Linked DNA regions of Homo sapiens. The protein of the gene in region 1 purifies or fractionates together with the protein of each later gene. This does not show direct contact. Each region holds a gene or a part of one and is shown in the gene's direction. Other genes may lie near its edges. The genes, in order: NELL1, MATN2, FBLN1, HCN1, TIMP3, PFKP and ZNF260.

The links.
Region 2: the proteins of NELL1 (region 1) and MATN2 purify together in Homo sapiens (affinity purification with mass spectrometry; 2 studies listed by BioGRID and IntAct, with this or other methods). This does not show direct contact.
Region 3: the proteins of NELL1 (region 1) and FBLN1 purify together in Homo sapiens (affinity purification with mass spectrometry; 2 studies listed by BioGRID and IntAct, with this or other methods). This does not show direct contact.
Region 4: the proteins of NELL1 (region 1) and HCN1 purify together in Homo sapiens (co-immunoprecipitation; one large-scale study listed by IntAct). This does not show direct contact.
Region 5: the proteins of NELL1 (region 1) and TIMP3 purify together in Homo sapiens (affinity purification with mass spectrometry; 2 studies listed by BioGRID and IntAct, with this or other methods). This does not show direct contact.
Region 6: the proteins of NELL1 (region 1) and PFKP purify together in Homo sapiens (affinity purification with mass spectrometry; 2 studies listed by BioGRID and IntAct, with this or other methods). This does not show direct contact.
Region 7: the proteins of NELL1 (region 1) and ZNF260 purify together in Homo sapiens (affinity purification with mass spectrometry; 2 studies listed by BioGRID and IntAct, with this or other methods). This does not show direct contact.

The regions. Positions count from the first base shown.
Region 1 is NC_000011.10:21,572,086-21,575,585, forward strand, and holds part of NELL1 (protein kinase C-binding protein NELL1 isoform 1 precursor), read left to right. Parts: intron 1-1,099; coding exon 1,100-1,324; intron 1,325-2,886; coding exon 2,887-2,937; 3' UTR 2,938-3,500. UniProt on the Homo sapiens protein: Plays a role in the control of cell growth and differentiation. Promotes osteoblast cell differentiation and terminal mineralization.
Region 2 is NC_000008.11:97,928,064-97,931,563, forward strand, and holds part of MATN2 (matrilin-2 isoform a precursor), read left to right. Parts: intron 1-2,889; coding exon 2,890-3,459; intron 3,460-3,500.
Region 3 is NC_000022.11:45,544,383-45,547,882, forward strand, and holds part of FBLN1 (fibulin-1 isoform D precursor), read left to right. Parts: intron 1-2,702; coding exon 2,703-2,822; intron 2,823-3,500. UniProt on the Homo sapiens protein: Incorporated into fibronectin-containing matrix fibers. May play a role in cell adhesion and migration along protein fibers within the extracellular matrix (ECM).
Region 4 is NC_000005.10:45,644,381-45,647,880, reverse strand, and holds part of HCN1 (potassium/sodium hyperpolarization-activated cyclic nucleotide-gated channel 1), read left to right. Parts: intron 1-2,272; coding exon 2,273-2,696; intron 2,697-3,500. UniProt on the Homo sapiens protein: Hyperpolarization-activated ion channel that are permeable to sodium and potassium ions. Displays lower selectivity for K(+) over Na(+) ions.
Region 5 is NC_000022.11:32,850,205-32,853,704, forward strand, and holds part of TIMP3 (metalloproteinase inhibitor 3 precursor), read left to right. Parts: intron 1-3,500.
Region 6 is NC_000010.11:3,098,548-3,102,047, forward strand, and holds part of PFKP (ATP-dependent 6-phosphofructokinase, platelet type), read left to right. Parts: intron 1-727; coding exon 728-805; intron 806-2,373; coding exon of another isoform or gene 2,374-2,453; intron 2,454-2,817; coding exon 2,818-3,007; intron 3,008-3,500. UniProt on the Homo sapiens protein: Catalyzes the phosphorylation of D-fructose 6-phosphate to fructose 1,6-bisphosphate by ATP, the first committing step of glycolysis.
Region 7 is NC_000019.10:36,521,772-36,525,271, reverse strand, and holds part of ZNF260 (zinc finger protein 260), read left to right. Parts: 5' UTR 1-117; intron 118-3,500. UniProt on the Homo sapiens protein: Transcription factor that acts as a cardiac regulator and an effector of alpha1-adrenergic signaling. Binds to PE response elements (PERE) present in the promoter of genes such as ANF/NPPA and acts as a direct transcriptional activator of NPPA.

The DNA.
Region 1 (3,500 bases):
AAAACTCCCACCCAAGGACAAAAAAAGTCAATACAACTGTAGAATTAGTTTCCCTATGAGACTGGCAAATTGCATTTCTTTTCCAAGAAGCTAATCATCAGGCATCCAGAAGAATTAGTATTAATTTGATGCATGAAATTTTCATAGATAGAATTTCAAAAGTGTATCCTCTTCCATCCTAGCCCCTAAGATGAATATTTCTCAGGAAAATTGAAGCTGTTAAACACATAACTTATGAATTACTTGAGAATACTGTGGGTCATACTTAATAAATATTCAAGACTTTTCATGTGCCAAACTTTGTATGACGTAACAGTGAGCAAGATAAACATGGCCTATACCTACACAAAGCCCACAGTCTTATGGAGATGACTGAACAATTAAATAAGTTGCCATATATTGTAAGGTATTATGCCATAGATTATAATTCATGATAGCAGAGGAAGAGGATGCATAGTGAAATAGTTTTATTGTGGGCAGCTCAATGAAGCCACAGATGCCAGATGCTGAGACACACAAAAGCTCCATTTGAACTGCAATCTAGAAAGTTCAGTGGTCACATGTTATATTCAAAACCATTCTGAAATGGTTATCTTGACATTGCCCAATCTTAACTTTAAATTTGATTGAAATATTACAGTGCTTCAGGTTCTGCTTTTGAACTTAAGAGAAATTAATTGCTCTTTATATACTAGACAGTACCTTATAATTTATTTATTAGCCTTTATTGACCAAAACTGTGCTAAACATGATGGAGAGAAAGTAACAAGCAGAAAGTCTGAAAGCTCAAAACTTAATGTGGAATTGTGCTAATTATGATATAAGTATCATGTTAAAATAATTATAGGCTGTGCTTGGCACACAAAGAAGCTCACCTAGCTCTTTCTATGTCCTGCAGTATAGATGATCAGCAAAAGCATTCTGAAAGAAGTGAGACCTGTAGTAGGTCTTCAAGGAGGAAGTGTACTTTATCCTCAATGGTGTCAACTAGAAATATTCAGTGATGAGAATTACTGTGCTCTCTTTCCCCTTCTATGACTTTGGGAATAAAATTATGCATAGGAACAATAATGAGACATTTTTTGCTTTTCCTCTACAGGAAGGAGAGGTAGATTGCTGGCCACTCACTTGCCCCAACTTGAGCTGTGAGTATACAGCTATCTTAGAAGGGGAATGTTGTCCCCGCTGTGTCAGTGACCCCTGCCTAGCTGATAACATCACCTATGACATCAGAAAAACTTGCCTGGACAGCTATGGTGTTTCACGGCTTAGTGGCTCAGTGTGGACGATGGCTGGATCTCCCTGCACAACCTGTAAATGCAAGGTAATTGGATGTTCTGCGGATATTGAAGCCTTGAACAATTGCCAGAGAACACTTGCAGGAGGTCCACTCCTGATGTTTCTGAATACACAGGTTCAATGGACATGGTGGAAACTCTGGCATACATTTACTTCTCATAGGAATTTAATATGTATGAATATTATCATAGCTGCACCCTGTAAAAAGGCAAATTCCAAATGAGCATGAAATAAAAGAATTGCTCCTGCCTTTGAACTACATAATTTTGACAAGTGATTCTTGGCTTAATTATGACTAACTTAGGCTCTTTTGACATGCATATTAAATAAAAAGAAAAGAAAGAAAGGGAAAGAACAAGGAAGGGAAGTAGAAAGAAAAGAAGGAAGGAAGGGAGGGAGGGAAAGAGGGAGGAAGGAAGGAAACCAGTCAACTTCCTTTCATCCTGGAAAAGTTTCTAAGTTCTTTTATTAAACTGTCAATGTTAGGGGAAAAAAGTCCTCTCAAGTTGTTTTGCTTTGTTTAATTATCAGAGTGCCTAAGGTGGGGACCTGCAGCTCTTGCTACAGCATTTCATTAACAGTGATTATTTCCCTGTCTTTTTGGAGGGGTTTTCATGAGACATCCTCATGTGTCATTAAGACTAAAAAACTGACCATTCTCTCCCTTCAAAGCTCATGAAGAGCTGGAGTGGTAGCTGATTTGGAACAATCATTAGTTAGTGTCAAATATCTGCCAAAATATCTGTTTAAGATTCCCATGATTAAACATGTTAAAACTAGGAGCCTACTTGGTCCCATCAAACCCTGGCTCAGCTTCAAGCATCAGTGGAAGCTTCCCAACTTGCCTCTTTATGCTGTTATAAATGTAGATTTTTTTTTTCTGGGAAAGTATCATCTTAAGATGTAGCCCCAGTAGAAAAAGGATACTATCAGACCTCATATAGAAAAAGGTCCATGGTCCCATCTGTACCTTCAGTCCCAGAGAACTAAATGACCAGGACACAGGGAGACCTCTGTTACTTATTTGATAATTATGTGGAATTATAAAGGTATATTTACATTAGTACATAAAATTTTTAATGAATTTATAAGTATTTATATACCTAACTATGCACTATCCCCTTCATAGTCACCATGAGAGATTTTATGCAAACCTTACTGGACCCCATCTTGGACTTGCCTGAAGATTGTTGGGGGTACTTTCAAATAGCTTCTTAAATGACAAATTGCTATCTTTTAGGGATTTATTTTTGGAAAGAATCTCGCTTGGAATAAGTACAGCAAACAGGTCATGTGAAAAGTTGGAAATCCCAGGGAGGCCTCCCAAGCAGGGATTGAGTGCAGGTGATGTGTGAAATTGAACTGCTAGCAGAATCCCAGTGAGCAGTACCCTGGAGGGTCTGTCAGTCCTTCCTTTCTTTCTACTCTTTCTCTAGTTTTTTTCCTAGCATTTTTTTCTAGTCATTTTTTATAGCCTTCTTGAAGTTTGTCTCAAAATGCTGAAAGTTGTTTTGAGTATAAAAATTGCAGACTGCTAATTTATATTCCATGTCTCAACTGGCTAACACATGTTTCTTTGATGTACAGAATGGAAGAGTCTGTTGTTCTGTGGATTTTGAGTGTCTTCAAAATAATTGAAGTATTTACAGTGGACTCAACGCAGAAGAATGGACGAAATGACCATCCAACGTGATTAAGGATAGGAATCGGTAGTTTGGTTTTTTTGTTTGTTTTGTTTTTTTAACCACAGATAATTGCCAAAGTTTCCACCTGAGGACGGTGTTTGGAGGTTGCCTTTTGGACCTACCACTTTGCTCATTCTTGCTAACCTAGTCTAGGTGACCTACAGTGCCGTGCATTTAAGTCAATGGTTGTTAAAAGAAGTTTCCCGTGTTGTAAATCATGTTTCCCTTATCAGATCATTTGCAAATACATTTAAATGATCTCATGGTAAATGTTGATGTATTTTTTGGTTTATTTTGTGTACTAACATAATAGAGAGAGACTCAGCTCCTTTTATTTATTTTGTTGATTTATGGATCAAATTCTAAAATAAAGTTGCCTGTTGTGACTTTTGTCCCATCTACTGCATACTTAGTGCTGAGATCCCTGTAAAATGTTTTGATGAAAATATGTATGTAGAGTCCAGTCGCATTATACATACATTTCATAGTGCTGAACCTTCTTAAATGCCTACTCAT
Region 2 (3,500 bases), on another chromosome or scaffold:
CAGGTGTGGCTCTTGGAGAGGGCCTGCCTGGGTCTTGGGAATGCTCCCCCTTGTCCTCCTTCCTGGGATCTGCAGATCCATCATCTACTGCCCCAACCCAGGGCTATATGCTAAACCACAGGAGCCTTCATGAAAATTAGAAAAGCACTCCTGCCTTTTTTTTTTTTTTTTTTTTTTTTCTGAGGTGGAGTCTTGCACTGTCACCTGGGCTGGAGTGCAGTGGCGCCATCTCAGCTCACTGCAACCTCCGCCTCCTGGGTTCAAGTGATTCTCCCGCCTCAGCCTCCCAAGTAGCTGGGACTACAGGTGCGTGCCACCATGCCTGACTAATTTTTTGTATTTTTAGTAGATTTGGCGCTTCACCATGTTAGCCAAGATGGTCTCAATCTCCTGACCTTGTGATCCTCCCGCCTCGGCCTCCCAAAGTGCTGGGATTACAGGCGTGAGCCACTGCACCTGGCTGAAAAGCACCCCCCTTAAGGTGCCTCTTAGGGTGGCTCAGCCCCTGGGGCTCAGGGCTTGGCTGGATTTCAGTTCCTCTCACCTCCTTGAGCAGGTGCCTGTGTGCAGCACCAACCACATAGCCATAGCTGTAACCCTGCCCCTACCCAGCCTGGGGCTGGACACGAGTGAGGGCTGATGGAGGGGTGGGGAGAGCCTGTACATGCAGCCAGCACACGTCGGGAGTTCCCAAGTGCTGGATCCTTCATTACATCATTTCCTTAAATTCTTACAGCTGCCCAACGAGGTGGATATTGGTTGCACCTCTGTATATTTTTTTCTTTTTCTAAATTATGAAAGATTTCAAACTCTCAGTGCTCCCATGTTCTCATCTATGCAATGGGTATGATGCTTCTTGATCCTTTCTCAAAAACTTGTTCTGAAAATCAAATCACACCAAGTGACAAAGTGCTCTGGAAATGTTAGGTTTCATATAGATCTTATCGCTGAACCCTCAAAGGCTCACTTTCTGGGGCCTCTGTTTTGAGACACTCACCCTGGACTCACCCAGCCCTCAGGGTTATGCATGGGTATGTCAGAACGTTGGTTTCTTGCCAGGCTACTGGTATTTGTGGGTGCCTCCTCCCCTAAAATCATTAGACTTGTGAGGCGGCAAGGATGAGTTGTGTGTGCAGGCACTCAGGGACGAGTCACAGCCTGGCAAGCTGGCCTGGACAGGATGACTTCATGGGCCTTTCCCACTTCTCATTTTTATGACTAGCTTTACTGTTTCATTTTGGCTTTCTCTCTCTTTCTTGCAGCTGTGGTGATTAGGATTTAGGGCAAGCATTTGGGATCCCTTTTCTAATACCTTTCAAATCCTGATTCAGCTGCAAAGTCCGGGAAGGGAGTAGAGAATGGGGGAGGAGGGACTCACCCTGGTGAAAGGCAGTAGCTCAGAATATCCGAGAAACTCCCAACAGGAATGCCCAGCCTCCACCCACTAAAGCTGGAGGCCTCTCATCTCATCCAATATCACCCTCGTACTAGAAACGCAAAAGGGATGAGTTTGTCTATGGACTCAAACCTTTACAGTCTTCTTGCTTAGCAGCTTAAGGCATAATTATGGTAGTCATGGTGGTAAGGGACTTAACATTTGCCTTTTTCCAATTTAACTGTGTCCTTTGTTGAAATATTTCTTAGTCAGGTCCCCTTTTCTCTATTTCCACTACTGTCCTAGGATTAGATCTGAGTCCCCCTCTCAATGAGATTAGTCCAGAAATTGTGTATACCATCCATCTTGCAAACCACTGCCAGACTCTGTTGACTTTTCATTATGTAACTTCCCTATGGGAGAGGTGAGTTACATAATATGATGCTAAGATGCCCCTCACTGGTGGCATCATGTACATATTTCTCAGTCTGAAAGGAAAGGTCTTTTTAAACTGGCTTCAGGCCATCTGTCCAACTAATTCCTGCCTGCAACTCCTAGTATACCCTCTACTACAAGGTCTCATCACTTATTCTGTTACCCACCACATTCATTCCGTCTTGGGCTTTGGTTCATGTGATCCACTCGATGTGCTCCTTCTCTCTAATCCAAACACCACGCATCTATAAGGTCAGCTCACGTCCCATCTCCTTGACCCCAGCCCATTCATATCCCTATTCTCTTAGCAGCTATTGTCAGGACGACACAGTTTTCATGCCAGTTATTCTTTCATGGTTTTATTAGTTAATTCTCCCCAGGTAGATTAGAAGCTCCTTAACTTTGGACCCTGTCCTAAGCTTCTGTTATATTCTCTGCAGTGCCCAGCCAAGCTTATGTGTCATGCAGTAAAGAATAAAATAATTTTGACCCTGATCAGGTGTTTGGTTACATAAAAACTGCATTGGCAACTTTCTAGAAACTAATATATTCATTTATCTTGCAAAAAGGATTGCTATCTGATTATAGCCAGTAGTCATGATCTTCCAGCCATGCACAAATATACCCTTATAACTTTCATGAGTGGGGAGGAAAATTGATGAAGGAGGTTTCAAAGGTGATCATCAGTCCCAGGATTTCCAACAATAGCCAGTCTGCCCTGGGTCCTTAACTCTCTTTTAATGTTTTTATTCTTATTTTTATTTTTTTAATGCAGTCTCACTCTTGTTGCCCAGGCTGGAGTTCAATGGCACTCTCTTGGCTCACTGCAACCTGTGCTTGCTGGATTCAAGTGATTCTCCTACCTCAGCCTCTCGAGTAGCTGGGAATACAGGTGCCGCCACCACACCCGGCTAATTTTTGTATTTTTAGTAGAGACAGGGTTTTACAGTGTTGACCAGGCTGGTCTTGAATTCCTGACCTCAGGTGATCCACCCGCCTTCCAAAGTGCTGGGATTACAGGTGTGAGCCACCACACCTGGCCTCTCTTCTAATGTATTTGACCTCTCCTCTTTCCCCAGAGAGTTCCTGTGAGAACAAGCGGGCAGACCTGGTTTTCATCATTGACAGCTCTCGCAGTGTCAACACCCATGACTATGCAAAGGTCAAGGAGTTCATCGTGGACATCTTGCAATTCTTGGACATTGGTCCTGATGTCACCCGAGTGGGCCTGCTCCAATATGGCAGCACTGTCAAGAATGAGTTCTCCCTCAAGACCTTCAAGAGGAAGTCCGAGGTGGAGCGTGCTGTCAAGAGGATGCGGCATCTGTCCACGGGCACCATGACTGGGCTGGCCATCCAGTATGCCCTGAACATCGCATTCTCAGAAGCAGAGGGGGCCCGGCCCCTGAGGGAGAATGTGCCACGGGTCATAATGATCGTGACAGATGGGAGACCTCAGGACTCCGTGGCCGAGGTGGCTGCTAAGGCACGGGACACGGGCATCCTAATCTTTGCCATTGGTGTGGGCCAGGTAGACTTCAACACCTTGAAGTCCATTGGGAGTGAGCCCCATGAGGACCATGTCTTCCTTGTGGCCAATTTCAGCCAGATTGAGACGCTGACCTCCGTGTTCCAGAAGAAGTTGTGCAGTAAGTCCTGCTCCTTTGTCACTCTTCTAGAGGAACCACTA
Region 3 (3,500 bases), on another chromosome or scaffold:
GGCCTGCCTCTAACTTCGTGTTGGAGTTAGGCTTTCCCCACCCGCAGAGACAGGGAGAAGCACCCTGGCCTTCCGGATGACGACATTCCCCAGGCATGTCCCCAGCCCTTGAGAAAGACACTCCTTGGTTGCACATCTCAAAGGGACAGAGAAACCGTTTACATTTGCAAGTTTTTCTAAAGTAGATGCTTCTAAGGAACATGGAGGTCAGCGCCTGTAGTCAGGTTTGGGCTGGAACCAAGAGAAAATTCTTTTGGCAGCATTGATCTTTCTCAGACAGGCATGTCAAGGGGGCTGGGTCTACATCCTGGATACCTGGTCTTGGGCCAATGGCAGCCACGCTGAAGTTGGGTCAGGTCTCTTGGTATGTGGGGGTTGGACAGAGTTGTTCCTGCCAACAGTCTTGTGGTTCTCAGATAACACCAACCTCCTGGGCTGATGGGAAGGTCACATGAACTGCATGTCAGCCCAGGGCCTGGCACATACTAGGTGCTTGGCAGATGTCGTGTCTTGTATACGGATTAGGTTCTGAGCTGAGCAGACACTGAGAGCTTTGGATGGCCCTCCACAATCGTCCACATTGCCGATGACACCCTGTTTGGTGCCGTGCACTGGCTCACAGGACGGCTTCTGCAGCCTGACTCAAACATGGCAGGTCCTAACATTTTGCCATGAGAATTTTCCTTCCTGATGAGATGGTCGCAGGGGTTGGATATGCCACAGTGAGCTGTGGTGTGCATGATTCTCAAATCGGAGGACGGACGGTGTGAGGGGTCCTGGGCTTAGTTCACAAGAACGTGTATGGACAAGGAACAAGATTCACGAGTTGAGTCTCTCAGGCTTGTGTTCAAACCTGACTTCTGCCATTTCCATGGCCTTGAAGAAGTAACTCAGTCTTTCCTGGGCCATGGTGTCCTCATCTGTAAAACGGGCATAGTAGGACCAACCCCATAGGGGGTTGTGAGGATGAAACGAGATTAAGCATGTGAAGAGCTTATCACAGGGCCAAGCACAGGATGAAGAGCTGGCGGTGTGGAGGCTGCTGGCTTTATTATTATTTAGTAGAAGTAGTGGGATTCCTGGCTTGTGCTTCCTCTAGTCATTCATAAATTGCTGAAAAGTCGGCATTCATATCCACATTAGTGGACAATATTGTGGATATAGAACCAGAGCCTGGCCAACCTTGCTATGTGACCTTACTAACCATTTGTTAGGGTCCTGCCCCGGGTGTGTAGCAAGAACTCGGTCCTGCACTGGGGAGTGTCTCTAGCGGGGGATGAGAGACCACACTGGACAGGTGGAGGCCAGGCCTGGTGTGTGGGGGCCACAGAGATGAAACACGGGGTGGAAGGCTATTGGACGTTCTGTGACAGCCACATAGTATAGATTTAAGGCTTTTCCAGCCACAATCTCTGTTGCAACCGCTGAACTCTGCTGTGGTAGCAGAGAAGTGGCCAGAGGACCATGGTAAAAGAATGAGTGTGGCAGGGCACAGTGGCTCACACCTGTAATCCCAGCACTTTGGGAGGCTGAGGCAGGTGGATTACTTGAGGTCAGGAGTTCGAGACCAGTATGGCCAACATCGTGAAACCCTGTGTCTACTAAAAATACAAAAATTAGCCGGGCATGGTGGTGCACACCTGTAATCCCCCAGCTACTCAGGAGGCTGAGGCAGGAGAACTGCTTGAATTCATGTCCACATTTAGTGGACAATAGCCTCCCGGAGGTGGAGATTGCAGTGAGCTGAGATTGAGCTACTTGTACTCCAGCCTGGGCGACAGACAAAGACTTTGTCTCAAAAAAAAAAAGAGTGAATGTGGCTGTATTCTTTATTTTATTGTTATTATTATTTTGAGACGGAGTCTCGCTCTGTCGCCCAGGCTGGAGTGCAGTGGTGTGATCTTGGCTCACTGCAACCTCTGCCTCCTTGTTCAAGCAATTCTCCTGCTTCAGCCTCCCGAGAAGTTGTGACTACAGGTGCGTGCCACCATGCCTGGCTAATTCTTGTATTTTTAGTAGAGATGGGTTTCATCATGCTGGCCAGGCTGGTCTCGAACCCCTGACCTCGTGATCCGCCCACCTCGGCCTCCCGAAGTGCTGGAATTACAGGCATGAGCCACCATGCCTTGCCGGGCTGTGTTCTAATAAAACTTTATTTATAAAAACAAGTGTTGGGACAAATTTGGCCCATAGACTATGATTTGCTGACCTCTGCTTTAGGTAAAGGGGACAGTTGAGCAGTAGTTCAGAGTTGCTGAGTGGCCCAGTGAGTTCTGTGCATTGGAGTATGAGGAGTACTGGCGTATGGGCTGGGTGGCCGAGGACTTCCTTGTGTGCCGTCATCTGTTTAGGATGCCATCTTGGAGGTGAAGTGGAGAGCACAGGATCAGATTTCCATTTGAGAACTAGAATGGACTCTGGCAGCCAGGTCGGGGCAGACTTCCAGGGGCCAAGGCTGGAGGCGATCGCTGCCATCCTGGCAGGAGAAGTTGTGGTCGAAGCAGGCAGGAGCAGGGATGGAGGGTCCGGAGCCACCAGCGATGACGCCTCTCCCTCGGCCACACCCCCCGGGACCTCTGTCTCTCCGAGTGTGTTAACCTGAGGGAGGTGGAGAGGAGATTTTCTGTTCACTGACCCTGAGGGCTACTGTGGAGGCAGGGACGTATGATGCTCTGAGCGGTGACCCTCGTTTTGTATTTCAGACATCAATGAGTGCAGCAGCAGCCCCTGTAGCCAGGAGTGTGCCAACGTCTACGGCTCCTACCAGTGTTACTGCCGGCGAGGCTACCAGCTCAGCGATGTGGATGGAGTCACCTGTGAAGGTGCGGACGCCCCTGCCTGCTGAGGGGGAAAGCACCCCCTGGTCTTGCCATGACACAGCAGCACGGCCTCTGACTTTCAAAATCCACAGGGAAGAGCCTGCTGGGATTTCTTCACCTGACAAACCTTCCATGTCCACCCTTGGAGGCAAGCGGGTGGTTTGCTGTTTTCCCTCCAACTGAGGTTTTTTTTTTTTTTTTTTTTTTTTTTTGAGACACGGTCTTGCTCTGTTGCCCAGGCTGGAGTGATATGGTGCAATCACTGCTCACTGCAGCCTCAGCTTCCCAGGCTCAAGTGATCCTCCCACCTCAGCCTCCCAAGTAGTTGGGACCATAGGTGTATACCACCATGCCTGGCTAATTTTTTATTTTTAAAAAATTAGAGACGGGGCCTTGCTGTGTTGCCCAGGCTGGTCTCGAACTCCGTGGCTCAAGTGATCCTCTTGCTTCAGCCTCCCAAATTGCTGGGATTACAGGCATGAGCCACCGTGCCTGGCCCCCAACTGAAATTCTAATATACTTTTCCCATCCTTAAGCGTGAGGGTGGGAAGGCAGCAAACCACTCCTGACTTGTTCTTTAATAAATGTGCACGGCGGTAATTACAACATGCACTGGGACCTTGGGCCGCATATCTCAGGTCTTGGTGGTGGTGCATGGCTGAGAGGTAAGGAGGGGGCTCA
Region 4 (3,500 bases), on another chromosome or scaffold:
TGAGAACTAAACAGCCTTGGTGATCAATTGGATATGGGTTTGAGCAGATTTAGGGCCAGGAGTTATTTAGGATGGCTCCATGGTTTCTGGCTTGCAAATCACACATAGAGTTATTCCATTCCCTGAGATAGGGGATATGTGAGGAATATATGTGGGAGAGGAGATTATGAGTTTGAGCTTAGGCATGCTGTTTGAGATGAGTGTGAGATATGCCAGGAGAGAGATTTAACGGGCTACTGATTATGAGGATTAGGAGGCTTAGAAGATAGGAATGGACTGAAGATAAAGCTTTTGGGGTCATCAGTTACAAATTAATTATTAAAGGCATGGATAAGTGTATAATATTTCTCAAGGGCAATGCGTAGAATAGAAGATGAAAGGGCTATGTGTGACACCCAGGGGAACAACAGCCTTGAAGGGGAGGGCAGAGAGAGAAGCTTACAGAAGGGACTTGATAGGAGTGCCCAGAAGTGAAAAATCCTCAGGGTACACACAGTTTCATTTTAGAGTTTAGTGGTGCCATTTCTTTGTGAAATAGCTGTTACAATATTGCTCCTCCTCTACATCTCTCCTCTGTCCTTATTGTGTTGAATGGTATATTTTGCATTTCCATTGTGAGAAGATATAAAACCATTTCATTTAAACTGCCAGTACATGTTGTATGGCTGACATGGGTATTTGTACAGTTGTTTCAAAAATTGCAGGCAAGTTTTGACAGAAATACTGGTGAAATCTTCAAAATAACAAACGCTTATCCTTTACAACATCCTGAGGCTGGAGACAGGGGAGATAGGGCCTATTATAGTTTTTTCTTCAACTAGTACTTTTATTTCAGGAGTCATTCTTAATTACAGATGATAGTAACTTTGAAAGCTTTATACACATGTATACCTCACCAAAATGTAGCTCAAATAGTCTAAGTAGGAGTATTCATGTAAAACAAAAATATCTTGGTAAACAGACATTTTTATCATGGAAGTTTATATTGTTTATACAAAACTCCTCAAATAACATACCTATGACTAGGATAAAGTAACTCATGTTTCTGGATACATTTCATGATTATACAGTTGTGTTTATTTTTTCATTTTTGCAAGTATATACTGTAACAACTATAAATATTTGATTAATAGGAGTGTCAACAGACTGAAAGAACCCTTATAAAAATAACACTATAGTTATGTCAAGTGAATTTAGTTAATTTAGTTAAGCTATATAAACCAGCAATGAAGTTCCTGGTTTTCTCTCAATTTTAATGTAAGTTGAGATAAGAATATTTCAAAAGGTACTTAGTAGTCATAGGCATGTTCAGAATTAAATTAGAAATGTTAAAGATTTTTTTTTAGCTGGGCATGGTGGCACGCCTGTAATGCCAGCTACTCGGGAGGCTGAGGCGGGAGGAGAATCACTTGAACTTGGGAGGCGGAGGTTTCAGTGAGCTGAGATTGTGCCATTGTACTCCAACCTGGGCAACAAGAATGAAACTCCGTCTCAAAAAAAAAAAAAAAAAAAAGAAAGAAAGAAAGAATTTTTATGGAAAAGTAGTGGCAATATATTTGAAGTAGTTGTTCAATAGAGTAGTAATAAAAACACAAATTTTAGGTAGATTCTAGTTTCAAATATGGAGTAGAACTTGCTCAGTTCTTTTTAGCATCAGACCAAAATTAGTTTTCTTATTTCAAGCAAAAGAAAAATAAAGCATAAAATATTTGGAGTACTGCAAAACTCCAGTGTATTCTAGATTCCATGGCAAAACTAATCTGTATTCCTTGAGATAAATTTGCATAACTAAAATTGTTAGAGTATCCTATTTATTTCTGGGTTTTTTTTTCTAATCTATGATTGGTAAATTGACATCTAAAATAATTCAAAACATCTTCAAAGAGCCTTCCCAAAGGCTTTCTTACAGATCTTCTAATCTTATACTTCTTTCTAGTTTCTGTCTATATTTTGTATTAAGTATAAGGTAGGTTGCTTTTTTTGCCTCTTTACTAAATAAATGGGGGTATGAATGTTTTTGATTTTATTTGTATAATGCTTCATATCACATAATTTTTAGAATTCCATAATCATAATGCCTTGGTTTAAGAATATATTAATTTTACTTAGATTTAAACATATAGCCATTTAAGGAATTACATTTTTAAAAAATAAAATCATTTCTTTGTTCTTTTACTTATTGATCTCACTATATATCAGTAATAATTTTTCATGGGGGGGATAGGCTGGTTATTTTCTATATCTTAAAATCTGATTTTTTTATTTGTTGTAGGTTTTACTGGGATTTAATAATGCTTATAATGATGGTTGGAAATCTAGTCATCATACCAGTTGGAATCACATTCTTTACAGAGCAAACAACAACACCATGGATTATTTTCAATGTGGCATCAGATACAGTTTTCCTATTGGACCTGATCATGAATTTTAGGACTGGGACTGTCAATGAAGACAGTTCTGAAATCATCCTGGACCCCAAAGTGATCAAGATGAATTATTTAAAAAGCTGGTTTGTGGTTGACTTCATCTCATCCATCCCAGTGGATTATATCTTTCTTATTGTAGAAAAAGGAATGGATTCTGAAGTTTACAAGACAGCCAGGGCACTTCGCATTGTGAGGTTTACAAAAATTCTCAGTCTCTTGCGTTTATTACGACTTTCAAGGTTAATTAGATACATACATCAATGGGAAGAGGTAAGATGCATCTTTTTCTTTTTTAAATCTATATCATGAAATTGTTAATTATGGCTGTTTTACAATGAACAACTGTGCAATGTGTAATGAGTTTTATGAAATTCAAGTAGAAAAATGTATTCGACGACTCTTTTCCATGCATAAGTGATATATTTGTATCCCTAAAATATATGATCAAATAATGGATTTGAATGAACTGAAAAAAATAGTGATCGTTTTATGCCAATTTATTTTATTTTTAAATAAATGCACTTTAATCAGCAATTATTATCTTGATCAATACAACCCCTTTCCCACCTTGGTTTTTTTTAATCTAATATAAATACATCAAGTACCATTATTTTGATAAAGATGTGTAGGGTCTGATTGCTAATCTGGCACATCATTAGCTCTGTGAGATAGTGTGGTTTTTGTATCCTCTAATATTGAAGTTTCATTGAATTCATGATTGGGTAAAACAGATTGTTTCTTTATTTCCAAATTGTATATATAAAGGCTTTGATTTTAGCATATTAATTTTGCTTATTGTTATGCCTTGCCTATAGTAACTTATTTTAGTTTCTCCCTATTAGTTCATTTCATAATACTAAAAAGGAACATATTCATGAGGGACATTAGTACATAGAAAACACAAAGAGTATAGTGAATAAATGGAGTGAATCTGACCAATCAGGCCCATATTTTGCTGAATAGAGCATCTGTTGTTAGGCAGTGGGTGGGACCTGAGAGGGCTCAGCCAACTGGAGTTTCCAAAGATCTGAGTTAAACCATCATCAAGCAAAGGAGTTCATATCCCTATCTTCA
Region 5 (3,500 bases), on another chromosome or scaffold:
AGAACACCAGATTTGAAATCTAGAGAACCTGCCTCCTAGTCTCACCTCTACTCCTAAATAGCCTGCTTACCTTGGGCTTGTCCCTTTTCCTGGGCCGCAGTTTTGCCACCTGTTAACAGTGTGGGGTTGGGCTTGGTGCTCCTAACATCCTCTCTAGCTCAGGCATTCTAAGCACCCTGGGATGCGGGCCATGTTACTTGTAAGGAGGAGCGGGTGGTATACAATGGAAGGGTGTACTGGTGATTGCCTTAGCACAGAAGACTGGGGCTTCACCTTGAATAACTCAGCAACTGGTTCATCACCCCATCTTTGTAAGCACCTCTCTACATGCAGAGCTCCCAGCTAGGAGCCAGGGAGGCCGTGAGGGAGATACAGTTTCCATCTTTAGGAACTAGAGTCAGGTTGGGAGAGAAGAGGCAGGTATGTGTGTGACTCATCAGAAGTTCAATGTGGGGTGTGCTGAGGTCCACAGGAACTGTCCAGCCCTTTAACTTATTGCTCATATTTGCATCCCTAGCAATTAGGGTAGGACCTGGCATGCAAAAGTGACTTGGTGAATGCTTATCTGTCTAATACGGGCATGAGGGTGAGACCCCACAGGCCTGGAAACTCCCCAGAGGAGACAAGCCGCAATGTCCAGGTAGAAGGGAGTGGAGGAGTGACGCAGCCCACGGTGGTACCCAACCATCCCCAAGGCCAACCTCCAGGCTTTCTTATTCCTGTGTCCTGAGGCTGGATGTACTAATTTTGTGGAACCTGTTGCTTTGGATTCAATTTTGCAAACATCCACAGCCTTCTGGTTATGTAATGTCCAGAGTCAGCCCTGGCCAGTTGCCCTTGGCTGCCTAAGCTTGGTCATGAGACCAGCTTATGTCTTCAGACAGCCCTGGGGAGAGAAAAATGGGCAGGGGTGGGGAACCAGCAAGAGCAACAACAACGCAAAAAGCCCACTTTGCAACCTCTGGCAGACAGCGCGGGAATGCCAAAGCATATTAGACCAAAGCAGAGGTTCAGAAAACACACGAACCTGCCTGGTCTGGAACAATCCTCATTACGAGACACTCGGTGGTCAGCAGAGAGCTGAGAGGGAAATAGCTGGGAGGCAGCAGTTCCTAAGCCTGCCTGGTTTCCTTCCTACCATCAGGGCCTGGAGACCAGGGTGACCAGAGGCCCTTCCTGTGGACATAATGTCCCATTCCCCCTTGCTGGTGTCAGACCAGCCACGGGTGGTTGTTTAGAGACCAAACAACACTTGCTAGCCTATCAGCATCAGACACTCCCACTCCCAGGCTGGTGGGCTTAGAAGACACACTCCCACTCCCAGACTGGTGGGCTTAGGCTTTCGGTTCACCATCCTTCGCCTGAGCTCATGAATCATGGTGCTGGGAATTAGATGTAGGATCCCTCGTCTTACTTCTGACAGAGGCGCAAAGGGGAAATGACTTACTCAGAGTCAAGCATTTAACTAAGGGCAGATCTGATCCCCAAGCTGAGGCATCGGAATTTCTTCCCAATCCTGTGTTCTTTATATGACTCCCAAATCTCCCTGCCATCTTAATCATCAGTCACCATCTCATGCCTTTCATTCACTCTGACCCTCCATAGAGGGTATCATGATCCATAGAACTGGTCAGTGCCCTTCTATCCAGAGACACCACTGGAATCTGCTTGTCTCTAGGTACCAGCCTGCAAGTCAGACAAGATACAGGCTAGAAGTAATAGTCCGTCCATCCATCCTCTCGTGCTTCCTTCCCACCCTCTCTCTGTGCTTAGTACTGTACTATGAACTGGGGATACAAAGATAACACTGCTTATAATTATGATAAGACTTGGCATCAGTTAACATTTACTGAGCAATTGCTTAGTGCCAGGCATTCTGCTAGGTCTTTGCATAGATCAGTACTTATACTAACACTGTAAAATAGATAACACCTTGTCCTCTGTTTGACAGGTGAGGCAACTGAGACCTGGGAGGTCATATAACTGTTAAGATTATATGGCCACAAAGTGGCAAACCTGAGCAAAACTACAGGGTCTTTGCCTATAAGGAGATAATACAGTATGGAGCAGCAGGCTGATTCATCATTCCTACCCACTTTGGGGTATATAAATGCCCACTCCATATGTTTTTAGTTCCCAGGGAACAAAAAGAGGTCAGTTTGGGTTTGTTGGTTTATCATCCAGCAGTGTAGGGCTGGACTTGTAATATCCTGCAAAGGGTGTATCAGAAAAATCTTTGTAGGAGGGAAGAGAGAGAGGCCAGAGAGGCAAGCCTGCATGAGTTTTGGCACTGGTCCCTGGGAGACTTTGTTCTAGCAGATTAGACAGTCTACCCTAGAGAGTCAGAAGGGGTGAGCAAGGGCTTCCTTAGAGCAGGACTAAAGGAACTTGGAGAACCTGAGACTCCGAGCCGCCCTGTCTGACCTCTCTCTTCTCTCACTGATGGAAGGCAGGCAGACCTTCTCCCGTCTGCTAACTCTGGAGCCTCTGACCCATCTCTCAGGAACACTTCAGTACACAGAGACCTGCGATATGTGTGTGTGTGTGAGGGAGCAGGGTGTTAGAATGTTGAGAGAGCTTATTGCAATCCCAAACTTGGAAATTAGCTGGGCTGTGGGGTGAAGGTGAAAGTTTCCAGAACTGGCTGCTCTAAGCTGTGGGGACCTTATCTCCCATCAGGACCATGAGAAACCGATCCACTGTGCCAGGAGTTATTGTTTATGTAGCGGAGACATGCTCTCCAGCTGGCTGCAGGGGACAGAACGTGGGGGACATTATGTCCCAGCTGGTCCTGGGAGGGTCCCATGGGGAGACCCGCTGGTCATGTGCTTTGCATGTCCTGACTGTAGGCAGAGCAGACCTCCAGGGACTTCCTTCCTTTAGTGGTTTGTCTAACCAAATGAGCAATAGCAGGGTCTCGCCTTTGAAGCTCTAGCTGGAAGCATCTTTGACCCCCAGCCCACAGGGAACCATTCTTCTTGCAATGCCCGTGGTTCTTCCTGCCTTAGGACTCTCATCCAGCCCTCTGCAGAGACTGGCTCCATTTCTACATTCTCTGCCTGTCCTGCTAGACAAATTGCTGTATAGAGAAAGATCATGGCCGTGATAGCTCGGTCGGTCTGTAAATAAGAATTTGTGGGTTTAAATGAGTCCGTGATGTACACCAGCATCCAGAACAGTGTTGATCTTTGGTAGGCATGCAAGACATAGTTGGAATCATTGAGGCAACTCATGCTGTCAATGTAGAGTGAAGGCCAGACATTTCATAAGAAATATGCAAATGTCCCCAGACTCAGAAACTTCTTTTTTACTTTATTTGTCCCTTCACTCCAAGGGAAGCTAACATCTTGGAACTTTGTGTAGATGCTACCAAGAAGAAGAAGAGGGGCCCAGAGGCATGCAGAACCCAGCTGAAAAAGAACAACCCACTTATGTCTGAAGTTCTAAACCAGCTTTAACTACTCTTGTTAAGAGCTGAGGAAGGGACTTAGGAGAAAGGG
Region 6 (3,500 bases), on another chromosome or scaffold:
ACCTGTAATCCCAGCTGCTCAGGAGGCTGAGGCAGGAGAATCACTTCAACCCGGGAGGCAGGTTGCAGTGAGCCGAGATCGCGCCACTGCACTCCAGCCTGGGTGACAGAGTGAGACTCCGTCTCAAAAAAAAAAAAAAAAAAGGTAATTGTCCTTGGGCTTCTTCTATCAATGTGTCCTCACATATTGATATCTGATTCCCTAATGCAGCACCGTGTCATTAATGGAGGGTAAGGCAGACAATTATTATTCAGCTGTGCTGTTTAATAATATTCAACATACATCCCAAGTGGCGCAGGGTGCCTTGGCAGGCGGAGCCCCTGACAAAATGCTCCCATGTATGTCCCGTGCTCGACAGTGCTGTGTGCCTGTGAGTTTGTGCTGAAGTATGATAAACACGTTGGGTGAAAGTGACCCCTTTCAACCTCTAGCGAAACACGACCCTTTCAACCTCTCGGGAAACGCTGGGCCATAGGAGAATGGCTTGATTCCTCATTGCACTGTGAGGCTGAGTCTAGGCAGACGTTCCCATTACTAGGGACTCAAGGTGAGGACTTTCCCACAATTCACTGCTTTTATCCAGTGCTGGAACTGCCCTGTCTTCTGACCAGTGGATGCTGAGGAACTGACATTCACTGTCATTTTTCCCGTTTTATATAATTTAAGGATCACTTCCCATTTAGTGAAGTTTATCTCATTTTTAAAAGATTCTCCCTTTCTCCCCTAGGGCTACCAGGGCATGGTGGACGGAGGCTCAAACATCGCAGAGGCCGACTGGGAGAGTGTCTCCAGCATCCTGCAAGTGGTAGGTACTGGGCTGCGTCCACAGGGTTCTCTGAGTTAGAGACTCTTTTATGTCTAGTAAATTCCCAGAACACTTGAGCTCAGATCAGTTGCGAAATAGAGATTATGTGGACAGAACAGACTTTGTGAGCAGCTCTTTACTTGTGGTTTGATTTTTAGAAATGCATGTGTTAATCTGTGAGTCACTTTGAGTACTTGTTAATAGAAATAATCCAAATCGGTGCCTCCCCGCTGAAGACGCTCATGGGGCCCACACCTTCGTGCTGGTCCAGGCTCTCTCTGCATTGGGCGCCTCCTGAGCTCCGACACATCAGAAGAGAGGTGGAGGGAATTTTGACAACCACGGAAGTTAGGTGGAGCAACGTTTGCAAAACATCAGGAGAGTGTGGGCTGAATTCACACAGGGGAGCGTTTCCATTCTGCGGTCGTGATTGACGGAGGAAGATAAGATGTGAACGGAGAGTTGAAGTGCGTATGTGTATCAGTGAGTCTGTGTTTCTGTGTGTGGTGTATGTGGTGTGTGAATCTCGGTGTGTGTGTAACTGTGTGAGTCTGGTGTGTGTCTGTATGTAGGTGTGTGAGTCTGAGTGTGTATGTGTGGTGTGCCCGTGTGTATGTGTTAACTGTGTGAATTTCTGGCTAGCGAATGTGTATCTGTGTGTGGGGTGTGTGTATATGTGGTGTCCTTGTATGTGTAGGTGTGTGGTGTGTGTGTGTGTGTGTGTGTGTGTGTGAAAGAGAGTGAGTGAGAGAATGGGAATGGCACCCACTCCTCTGCAGCCCAGTTATCCTGGTTTCGTTCCTGAGTTGCGGCCACCTCGTCTCTTTGGTTGGAGTTTCTGGGTTGCTGGCTCTAGCTCCCATTGTGCTGGCTCTCGTGCTGCCCCCCAGGTTTTTGTCCAGGCAGAGTCCAGAGAGCACCCCTGCCCTGCTCTGCGCCCCCACCCTCACTTGCCTTGGGGGTTGGGTTGTAAATGGTCTCGGTCACACTTGGTGCCAGTGACGTAGGATCGTGTGGAGTGAATTTCAGTTTTTGTAACCTTTTCATAATGTTTTGATAAATTAAATGGTGGTAGGTTTCATGTAAAAATAGGAGCTTTTCTGGGATTTGGAATATTAGTGAGTCTCTGTGTGTGAAAATGAGCTGTGTGCGTGCACCATTGGTGTATCGAAACACGCACTCACGTCACTGCAGGGGTCTCCTGGGAGCTGCCTGCAGACCGAAGGCAGGGAGAGCTTCGCCTCCAGTGCAGAGACAACCCCTGCTGTGCTTATGAGCACCTTGCTTGACAAAGTCAGCACGCGCTTAGGGATCCCGTACGGATGGAGTTTTTTGGTGCATTCATGGTTTTATTTAAAGAAATCTTGCATTTGTGGATCCCACCAACAATTCTTAGTTTTTGGAAAACCAAGTGTGACGAATCATGATCTATGTCCCCTGGAAGTTTGGATGAAAGAATTTAAGATCCTGAAGATATAGCTCTTTAAAAGGGGCAGCGAGTATGTGGTGCAAAAAAAAAAAAAAAAAAAATCCCCCTGGCCCCAGGTTCCTGCTGGTTTTACTTGCAGGTGCTGTAAGGGGTGACTGGAGGGAGAAGCCTGGCTGCTGGTCACACCGCTTCCCTTGTCCTGGCCGGCATGCTCTGGTGGTCAGTGGGCTTGTCTTTGGTTCCACGTGCACCTGGTTGAGCTCGTTGGCCGGTGCTGAGGCGGCTGCTGTGACACCGCAGGCTGGTTCCTGCTCCATGTATTTAACTGCTGGCTGCCGTGTGTCTGGCTCTGCACCCTCCCTGGCTCCTCCTGGGTGTCACGCGCCTGTCTTTGTCCATGGAATGCTGGTCTGGGACTAAAAACAGGAAAATCACAGTCTTTCATAGCTAGTTACTAACTCACAAGATGAAAATGAGAAAAATGTAAATTCTAGCACCCCATGTTTATAGTCGGCCTGTGTGTGCCATCCACCTGGCGCTCTCTCAGACTGAGAGGAGATAAATTAGCTGGTGTCTTTCCCAGGGCGGGACGATCATTGGCAGTGCGCGGTGCCAGGCCTTCCGCACGCGGGAAGGCCGCCTGAAGGCTGCTTGCAACCTGCTGCAGCGCGGCATCACCAACCTGTGTGTGATCGGCGGGGACGGGAGCCTCACCGGGGCCAACCTCTTCCGGAAGGAGTGGAGTGGGCTGCTGGAGGAGCTGGCCAGGAACGGTGAGTGGACACCTGCTCCTCTGTCCTGCGGGTTTTCGCCCTGTTTCAGAGCTTTGGAACCGACAGGTTTCCCTCTTCACTGTGGCAGAAGTACCTCTTCTCACAGATCTTACAGGTCACCATCTCAGGACTTTTTAGGATCTCAAAAAACAACAGCAATGATCGTAAGAATGCTAGTAATTTAACCTTACCATGTGCCAGGCACCCTTCGACCTTTCACACAGATAGCTTTATGGAATCCTCACGACAGCCATCTAAGCCAGGTTTTAGATCATCCCATTTACAGATGAGGAATCAAACGGCCACTCAGCCGTGGGGCGAGCCGGGTCCCCAGCAGCCTGGGACACTAGCATCCGCCTTTCAGCCCTCACACTGTGTCCCTCCAGCTCGCTGGGGTCCTTTAAAACTGAAGTTGGGCCGGGCGCGGTGGCTCACGCCTGTAATCCCAGCACTTTGGGAGGCCGAGGCGGGCGGATCACGAGGTCAGGAGATC
Region 7 (3,500 bases), on another chromosome or scaffold:
AAGTCCAGTGTCATTTTTCTGCTCACAAGTTTAAAGTCAGCACTTAAAAGAACAGCAACAGATGATTGAGAAAGAAATGTAAAGAAGGTTCTCTTTGTGTGAGTAAGCAAGAACCTGGTAGGTATGAATGAGATAAAGACTTATTGCAGTTATTCAGTGAGAATTTGCAGCCTCTGAGTTGTTGTGGGGTTTTTTTGTTTGTTTGTTTGTTTGTTTTTTTGAGATTTTCGTACTAGCCTTTGTCTTTTAGAGTGACTGTTGCTGGGAATTCTTTAGATACCTAAATGACATTTCCAGACTGTCTTCCTGAATCTATGCATCCCTTTTATCAGATTCTAGAGGACTGATTGCTCTTCTAAAATCTATTCTGGATGCCAGTCATTCTACATCATTTGCAGCCTCAATTTTATGATTTTTTTACAGCCTCAATTTCACTTTTCTTCCTTTCACTAACATTCTCCATTTTTCACTTTTCCCTGTATGCCTAGATGCGTTTCCTTAAGCATTCAGTCCTTCATAGATCTGTTAGTTTTCAAAAACTAGCATGTCGTTAAGAGTCATCACCACTCCCTAATCTTAAGTACCCAGGGACACAAACACTGCGGAAGGCCGCAGGGTCCTCTGCCTAGGAAAACCAGAGACCTTTGTTCACTTGTTTATCTACTGACCTTCCCTCCACTATTGTCCTATGACCCTGCCAAATCCCCCTCTGCGAGAAACACCCAAGAATGATCAATAAAAAAAAAAAAAAAAACTAGCATGTAAGTTATTTTCTTTAAAATGTAATCATTCTGGCCAGGCGTGGTGGCTCACGCCTGTAATCCCAGCACTTTGGGAGGCCGAGGCTGGCGGATCACGAGGTCAGGAGATCACGACCATCCTGGCTAACACGGTGAAACCCCGTCTTTACTAAAAATACAAAAACAAAATTAGCCAGGTGTGGTGGCGGGCGCCTGTAGTTCCAGCTACTCAGGAGGCTGAGGTGGGAGAATGGCGTGAACCTGGGAGGTGGAACTTGCAGTGAGCTGAGATTGTGCCAGTGCACTCCAGCCTGGGCAACAGAGTGAGACTCTGTCTAAAAAATAATAATAATAAATAAAATAAATTAATCATTCTATGTATAACTATTATGTATCAATAAAAAAACTTTCAAAGACTAGCAAGTAGATTCTTTTCTTTACATTTTAACTTTCTATCATTCTTTCTCCTTCCATTGTTATATTCCTCAGAATTGAATTTTGCTTCCTTACTCTTGTTTTCTATTGTCTTCCTACCTCCAGCCATCATAGTTCAACACTATGTCACCTCCTGCTTTTTAACAATATTACAGGCTTAGGGATTAGTGCTGACTTCCTATTAGTTCATTACCCTGTTAATTTTAAAAAGAAATAATAATGGCTGGGTATGGTGGTGCACGCCTGTAATCCCAGCACTTTGGGAGGCTGCGGCAGGTGGATCATGAGGTCAGGAGTTTGAGACCAGCCTGACCAACATGGTGAAACCCAGTCTCTACTAAAAATACAAAAATTAGCCTGGCGAGGTGGCACACGCCTGTAATCCCAGCTACTCAGGAGCCTGAGGCAGAAGAATCACTTGAACCTGGGAGGCGGAGGTTGCAGTGAGCCGAGATCATGCCACTGCACTCCAGTCTGGGCGACAGAGTGAGACTCCCATCTCAAAAAAAAAAAAAAAAAGAAATAATACTATTATTATCAAAATTTAATATGTATACTTGATAGAAAATTAAAACAATCAGGTATGTCTCTTCATTCCTGGCCCTCAATCCCCTGTTTCCCAGAAGCAGCCACTGTTAACAGTGTCTGCTGTATGCTTCTAAATGTTTTTATGAGGATACAAAAAGGCTTTCAAGTAGAGCAGTGATGTGATTGGACTGTGACAAGATTACTGTGGCTGCTGTGTTGAGAACTGTAAAGAGTTGAAAGCTAAAGTAGCAAGACTGGTAAGGAGGCTGTTAAATAATCCTGGCAAGACATGTGGCTTAGACCTTGGTGGTCACAGTGAGGATTGTCCAAAATAGCCAGTAAGCTACGAGGTTGTAAAGAGTGTGCAATCTGACTGAAAGAGAAGTATTGTTTGAGCAGCAAGGAGAATGAGATTGCTATTTAAAGAGATGAGAAGAATTTGAGAGGAGTTGGTTTGGGAGCTGGAGCAAGAGTTTGAATAGGGGCAGGGTAAGTTAGATCACTATTAGACATCCAAGTGGAAATGTTGAGTAGTCAGCTGGATATTTGAATTGATTGTTGAGGAGAGAGGTCCAGGCTGGTGATTAGTATTTGTTAGGCATCTCAGATTCATGATATGTAAAGCAATAAGAAGTGTACTAATCACAGTAAAGCTAAGTGACTATAATAAACTTCAAAGTGCCAGTTTAAGGAATGTAGGAATTGATTTCTTGGTCACATAACACTCATGTGGTGAATAGTCCAGATTTGCATGCTAACTTTGGTGCTTATGGTCCCTGAAACATATGGATTCCTCCGAGGTTCTCTCTTTATTATCTGGTTGTGGTTGGAGCTGGATCAACAATGCAACCTGGTTTCAGCCAGATAGAAGATGGAGGAATTGCTACTCTAGGACAGGAGTTCAGCAAGCTTTTTCTGTAAAGGGCCAGATGGTTAATATTTAAGTCTTTGTAGGCTACAGGGTCTCCATTGCAGCTACTTATCTCAAGCATTATACTGTGAAAGTAGTCATGGACAAGAAAATAAATAAACATGGCCATGTTCCAGAAAAACTCTTTTAGTTTGCCAACCTTGTGGTGTTTTTTTTTATTTTATTTATTTATTTATTTTTTGAGATGGAGTTTCACTCTTGTTGCCTAGGCCAGAGTGCAATGGTGTGATCTCGGCTCACTACAACCTCCATCTCCCAGGTTCAAGCGATTCTCCTGCCTCCACCTCCTGTGTAGCTGGCATTACAGGAACATGTCACCACGCCCAGCTAATTTTTTGTATTTCTAGTAGAGACAGGGTTTCACTATGTTGGCCAGTCTCGTCTCGAACTCCTGACCTCAGGTGATCCACTCACCTCGGCCTCCCAAAGTGCTGGGATTACAGGCGTGAGCCACCGAGCCTGGCGTCAACCCTTGTTTTAACAGGTCACTATTTACACATAATACAATTAAGAGTTTGCTTGCCATTAGAGCATTTTGACTTATATTTTGAAAGCATTTTTCATTTTATTTTATTTTTTTTATTTGTTTGAGATGAAGTCTCACACTGTCACCTGGGCTGGAGTGCAGTGGCGCGATCTCGGCTCACTGCAAGCTCTGCCTCCCAGGTTCAAGCGATTCTGCTGCCTCATCCTCCCAAGTAGCTGGGATAACAGGCGCCCACCACCAAGCATAGCTAATTTTTTGTATTTTTAGTAGAGACGGGGTTTCACCATGTTGGCCAGACTGGTCTCAAACTCCCGACCTTGTGATCTGCCTGCCTCCACCTCCCAAAGTGCTGGGATTACAGGCGTGAGCCACCGCACCC